2 separate regions of the Homo sapiens genome follow, and region 1 is linked to region 2. Evidence: fine-mapped expression QTL. A gene starts in region 2. The other region holds a variant in brackets. All regions are shown on one strand. Distances are between the middles of the regions. Region 1 has its middle 17 kb from the start of GPR32. Region 2 holds the start of CLEC11A (C-type lectin domain containing 11A).

Region 1 (2,900 bases), 30 kb after region 2:
TACATCTCTCAGAATTTATTCCTGATGTTAATCGAAGCAGGACTATAGCAGTATTAATAACGAGACCTAACAATGCTTGAGCACCTACTATGTGCCAAGAAGTTTTTTTTGTTTTGTTCTGTTTTTGTTTTTGATGAATCTCACTCTGTTGCCCAGGCTGGAGTGCAGTAGCTCAATCTCGACCGGCTGCAACCTCCACCTCTGAGGTTCAAGCAATTCGCCTGCCTCAGCCTCCGAAGTAGCTGGGATTACAGGCACCCACCCTGATGTCTGGCTAATTTTTGTATTTTTAGTAGAGACAGGGTTTCGCCATGTTGGCCAGGCTGGTCTTGAACTCCTTGTCTCAGGTAATCCACCCGCCTTGGCCTCCCAAAGTGCTGGGATCACAGGCGTGAGCCACCGAGCCCGGCCGCAAGAAGTTTTAAGTGTTTTGTATCTCTTAACAAATTTCATTAGCACAAAGAGGGCAGAGGAGAATTGGAATGGCCTTGCGGAAAGACCTCCCTGGCACCCGCCTCCTCCTTATGCCCCAAGCCTGCAGCCCCTGGGGCCTATTATTAGGGCCCACATCTGGTGACATTTCCCGGACTGATAGCGATCTCTGAAGCTCTTGCTCAAGGTTCTTTCCTGGACGTTTATCTGCTCCAAAACTCACAGCTAGCTTCCTGCCATCAGCCCCCTACCTTTAACGTGGGCTCAAGGCTGGCGGCCACCTGGGACTGACGACAGAGACAGAAAGAGCCCCCTCACCTTGCCTCACCCTCAGACACAGCACAAGGTGACGGGACCGGGATTCGTTGCGGGGTGTGTCTCAGGGAGCCAGGAGGTAGGAGCTTGGGGATTAGGAGAGTTGAAGGGCACTCTCCAGGGTATACAAAAAGGAGGTAGTGGGCTGGGCACAGTGGCTCACCCCTGTAATCCTAGCACTTAGGGAGGCCGAGGCAGGTGGATCACCTGAGGTCAAGAGTTGGAGACCACCCTGGCCAACATAGTGAATCCCCATCTCTACTAAAAATACAAAAACCAGCCGGGTGTGGTGGCAGCTGCCTGTAATCCCAGCTACTTAGGAGGCTGAGGCAGGAGAATTGCTTGAACCCAGGAGACAGAGGTTGCAGTGAGCTGAGATCGTGCCATTGCACTCCGGCCTAGGCAATAGAGTGAGACTCCATCTCAAAAGAAAAAAAAAAAAAGAGGTGGCAAAAAGGGGCTGAAAGTTCTGGGCCACCTCCTCTGGGTGAGGAATGTTCTCATGCCATATGCGTGAACTGTGCCTGGTCAGAGGTATTTGACTGTCTTCATCACTGCGGTACCCCCAGCGCTTAGGATAGTGTCTGG[T/C]GTACAATTTGGGCTCAATGCATAATTTTACACTAAATGAATGAATCCATCCTCAGATGACAAAGGAGAGATTGCCCTCCTTAATGGATCACTCATCGATTATTTACCAAGTGCCTGCTGTGTTCCAGGGGCCAGGAGCAAGCCACACACCAGCCTCGCCTCTAGGGAACTCAGAGATGAATAATGCAGATGGGTGATCACCAAATGATCCAACAAACGCGGTCTAATTGCTGCTGCCTGTAACCAGCTCTTTTTTTGTGGGGGCTCGGGGGGAACGGGGGGACAACAGAGTCTTGCTCTATCACCCAGGCTGGAGTGCAGTGGCATGATCACAGTTCTCTCCAAACTCCGCCTCCCGGGTTCAAGCGATTCTCCTGCCTCAGCCTCCCAAGTAGCTGAGATTACAGGCATGCACCACCACACCCAGCTAATTTTTGTATCTTTAGTAGAGATGGGGGTCTCACCATGTTGGCCAGGCTGGTCTCAAACTCCTGACCTCATGCGATCCTCCCACCTTAGCTTCCCAAAGTACTGGTATTACAGGTGTGAGCCACCGTTCCCAGCCTGTAATCATCTCTTCATGGGAGAGAAGCTCCTATAGGAGGGTCTGATTGAAAAGGGCAGGAAAAACTTTGGGGAGAAAGTGAAATTTGCACTGAGATCGCAGGAATGAGTTAAAAAAAAAAAAAAGCAGAGGAAAGAAAAGGTGTTCCAGGCAGAGGGGCAGCACATGCAAAGGCCCTGGGGTGGGAGGGAGATGAGAATCTTGGCAATGGACACAAAGGTAGGGAAGCCGGGATTTGGTGCACAAAGAGGGGGAAGGTGCAAGAGAAGTCTGGAGAGGCTGGCAGGTGCCCCAGCTCTCACCAGTGGTGCCGGGGAGACTCATATTTATCCCACAAGCAATGAAGAGCCACAGTGTAATTTTCCAGTTTGAACTGTATTTTTTTTTTTTTTGAGACAGGGTCTCACTCTGTTGCCCAGGCTGGAGTGCAGTGGCACAGTCATGGTTCACTGCAGCCTCAATCTCCTGAGCTCAAGTGATCCTCGTGCCTCAGCCTCTCGGGTAGCTGGAATTACAATGCAAGCCACACTGTTTGGCCAATTTATTTTTATTTTGTAGAGACAGGGTTTCGCCTTGCCACCTAGACTGGTCCTGAAGCCCTGGCCTCAAGTGATTCTCCTGCCTGGGTCTCCCACAGCGCTGGGGTTACAAGGTTTGGGCTTTCAAAGGATCACTCTAGCTGTAGGGTGGTGAGTGGCTGGTAGGAGATGAATATAAAGCTGAGGGCCAGGCACAGTGGCGCACACCTGTACTCCCAGCACTTTGGGAGGCCGAGGTGCATGAATCACCTGAGGTCAGGAGTTCAAGACCAGCCTGGTCAATATGGTGAAACCCCGTCTCTACTAAAAATATAAAAATTAGCTGGGCATGTCCCCAGGGTGTGTGCCTATAGTCCCAACTACTCTACTCAGGAGGCTGAAGCAGGAGAATTGCTTGAACCCGAGAGGCAGAGGTTGCAGTGAGCCAAGATTGTACCACTGCACTCCAGCTTAGGCAACAC
Region 2 (2,900 bases):
AATGGGGCATTTTAATAAAGTAACTTGCGGAATAGATAAGGTGGTTGGGGAAGACCTCCTGGAGCTGAGACCTCGATGATGAGAAGGAGCTGGGGAAAGAGGCTTCTAGAAGGAGGAAAGGGCTAGTGCAAATGCTCTGAGGTTGTAATCAGCTTAGTATTTGGGGATGAGCCAAGAGGCCAGGGAAGGTGGAGGCTGGGGGTGGGTGAAGGGAATGGGGGTGATGAGGCTGCAGAGGTGCAAAGGGTTCTTCCTTCCCAGCCCCCAGCATGGTAGGCTGCGCTGAGGACTGAGGCCCGGGCTTGGCTTCCCTCCTGCTTATGATGGGAAGGTGGGGGAGCAGGGGAGTGGGGAGTGATGTGATCTGATTTATGGTTTGGAAGGATTGCTTTGGCTGCGGCAAGCAGCCGGGATTGGAGGGGCTCAGGAGGAAGGAGGGGGAGGGCGAGACTGCAGTGGTCCAGGCTGAAATGAGGTGGCTTGCTGAATGCTCAGAGCTCCTTGAGCACACAACCTAGCGTCTGTCGATTTCACCTCCTGGAGAAACCTTCCCTGACTGCTCCGCCAGACTCCTCACCCTCTCCCATCTCCAGCCCCCTCATCCCCGGAGCTATCTGGCTGCTGGTCTGCAAGCAGCTGGAGTCCCCAGCATCACCCAGCCCACAGCCTGGCCTGCAGGAGGCTTCTAGTAAAGTGGCCAATTAATCCCCGAGCCCCGTCTTCCAGGGTCATGCACACAGTCACACGCGTGCTCTTCACATGTGTCACCCTGCCCCCACACACACTCACTTGGATCTCCAGACAAGGGCTTGGAGGGTAGGATGGGCAATCTAGGGGGCAGGAGGGGCCCTGGAGTCTCCTCCATTGAGTGTGCAGGCGATGGTGGCCACAGGGTAATAACAACCTCAGCGAGACCCTGAGGTCTGCCCCTCCTTAGGAATGGCCAGGCAGGGAAGAAGGGAGCAGTGCTCGGTCCCAGCATCCCACCACTGCCGAGATGGTTCTGAGCGGGTTCCTGGGCTGAGGCCGGGGCCTGTGTTTTCCAAGATTCCTTGGAGAGCCAGCTCCATCCTCTTCCTGATTATCTGATCTTTGGGCTACAGCAGAAGGAAAGAGCAGGGCGGAAGCGAGCTCTGGAAAGTGGAAAGAGGAGGGTGTGCGAGGAGACCCAAGGCGGGATCTAGGCTTTGGAACGTTGGAGGTTTCCGGCCACAGAGGCAGGGCCTCCGGGGAGCCAAGAGGGGCGGGGAGAGACACACACAGAGAAGCAGAGGAGACCAACGGACCGGACAGAGACGAGGAGAGGAACAGGAAGAGAGAAGCTGGGAGAATCGGGAACCTGGGGGCTAGTGACCTGCACACAGGGCAGGGGCACTCGGCAGTTCCCAGAGGCCACCCCTCCCACCCCAGACATCCAGACATCTGGAACTTTGGGTGCCAAGAGTCCAGCTTAATGCAGGCAGCCTGGCTTTTGGGGGCTTTGGTGGTCCCCCAGCTCTTGGGCTTTGGCCATGGGGCTCGGGGAGCAGAGAGGGAGTGGGAGGGAGGCTGGGGAGGTGCCCAGGAGGAGGAGCGGGAGAGGGAGGCCCTGATGCTGAAGGTGAGCTCTGGAGTGTCAGGGAGCTATGGGTGGTGAACTGTGGGTCTGGGAGGGGGTATTGCAAGGTTAGGGAAATGGACAATGAGGAGCGATTGGGATAGTCTCAGAGGAGTGGGAGGGTGATGGGCTCAGAGACAGGACTCAGGCAGCAGAGAATGAGTTATGAGTTGGAAAGGGGTGAATGGGGCATCTTGGTGGCAGGCTGGGGCTCACCACCCCTCCCCTGCCCCAGCATCTGCAGGAAGCCCTAGGACTGCCTGCTGGGAGGGGGGATGAGAATCCTGCCGGAACTGTTGAGGGAAAAGAGGACTGGGAGATGGAGGAGGACCAGGGGGAGGAAGAGGAGGAGGAAGCAACGCCAACCCCATCCTCCGGCCCCAGCCCCTCTCCCACCCCTGAGGACATCGTCACTTACATCCGTGAGTAACCAGAAGCCCTCACCCCCAAACTCCTAGGCCGCCGCGGTCACTTTCGCAAAAATGAAGGGTCGGTTCACTGCCAAGTGGCCTTTCAGTTGTCCATTGCCCAGCCCAGAGCCCCCACACCCCTAGGAGCCCCAGGTCCACGGCCATGCCTCCTAAAGGCCTGGGCCACTCGACCCTACCTTCCAGGAGTCCGGGGTGCCCCCCCCACCGCCACCCCGCCCTCAGGAGCCCTAGATCCCAGTTCTCCAGGTCCTCAGGCCCCCCGCTGCATCTCCAGGCTCCCCCTCCAGCATGATCCCTGTCTGTCCGCAGTGGGCCGCCTGGCCGGCCTGGACGCAGGCCTGCACCAGCTGCACGTCCGTCTGCACGCGTTGGACACCCGCGTGGTCGAGCTGACCCAGGGGCTGCGGCAGCTGCGGAACGCGGCAGGCGACACCCGCGATGCCGTGCAAGCCCTGCAGGAGGCGCAGGGTCGCGCCGAGCGCGAGCACGGCCGCTTGGAGGGTGAGTCCGCGGCGCGCGGGGTGGAAAAAAATGAGACTATCTGGGCCAGGAATGGGACTGGTTGAGAAGGTGACCCTAGGTGTCCGGGGCGGGAGAGTTCGGGAGAGCTGCTGTGTGCTAGCGGACGGGGTTAGAGAGCTGGGAGGCTGAATGCAGGGAGCGGGTGGGCACTCCAGACCCGCGCGGACCCGACTGGGGCAGCACCACGCCCCCTACAGTCCAGCTCCCACCGCCTGGCCCCGCCCCTGGCGGACCAGACTCTCCACCTCCTGGCTCCCGCGGTTCTGACCACGCCTCCTCCCAGCCCTCCCCATGAGTTCCTGGCCCCGCCTCCCTCCACCCCCGGATGTTTTGTCCTCGCCCCCTTCCAG

The links. PIP is the estimated chance that this variant, and not a neighbour inherited with it, causes the effect.
Region 1: its variant is fine-mapped to the expression of CLEC11A in whole blood (TOPMed, PIP above 0.99).

What each region holds. Positions count from the first base shown.
Region 1 is chr19:50,751,994-50,754,893 of GRCh38, forward strand. No RefSeq gene overlaps it. Among named protein-coding and RNA genes, the nearest start is that of GPR32, 17 kb to the right of the region's middle. The variant T/C (reference allele first, on the strand shown) is at 1,336.
Region 2 is chr19:50,722,073-50,724,972 of GRCh38, forward strand. CLEC11A (C-type lectin domain containing 11A) reads left to right here and starts at 1,292. Exons shown (of 4, transcript NM_002975.3): 1 at 1,292-1,600; 2 at 1,833-2,019; 3 at 2,338-2,529. The coding sequence starts at 1,454. RefSeq lists silencers at 2,641-2,760, 2,801-2,860.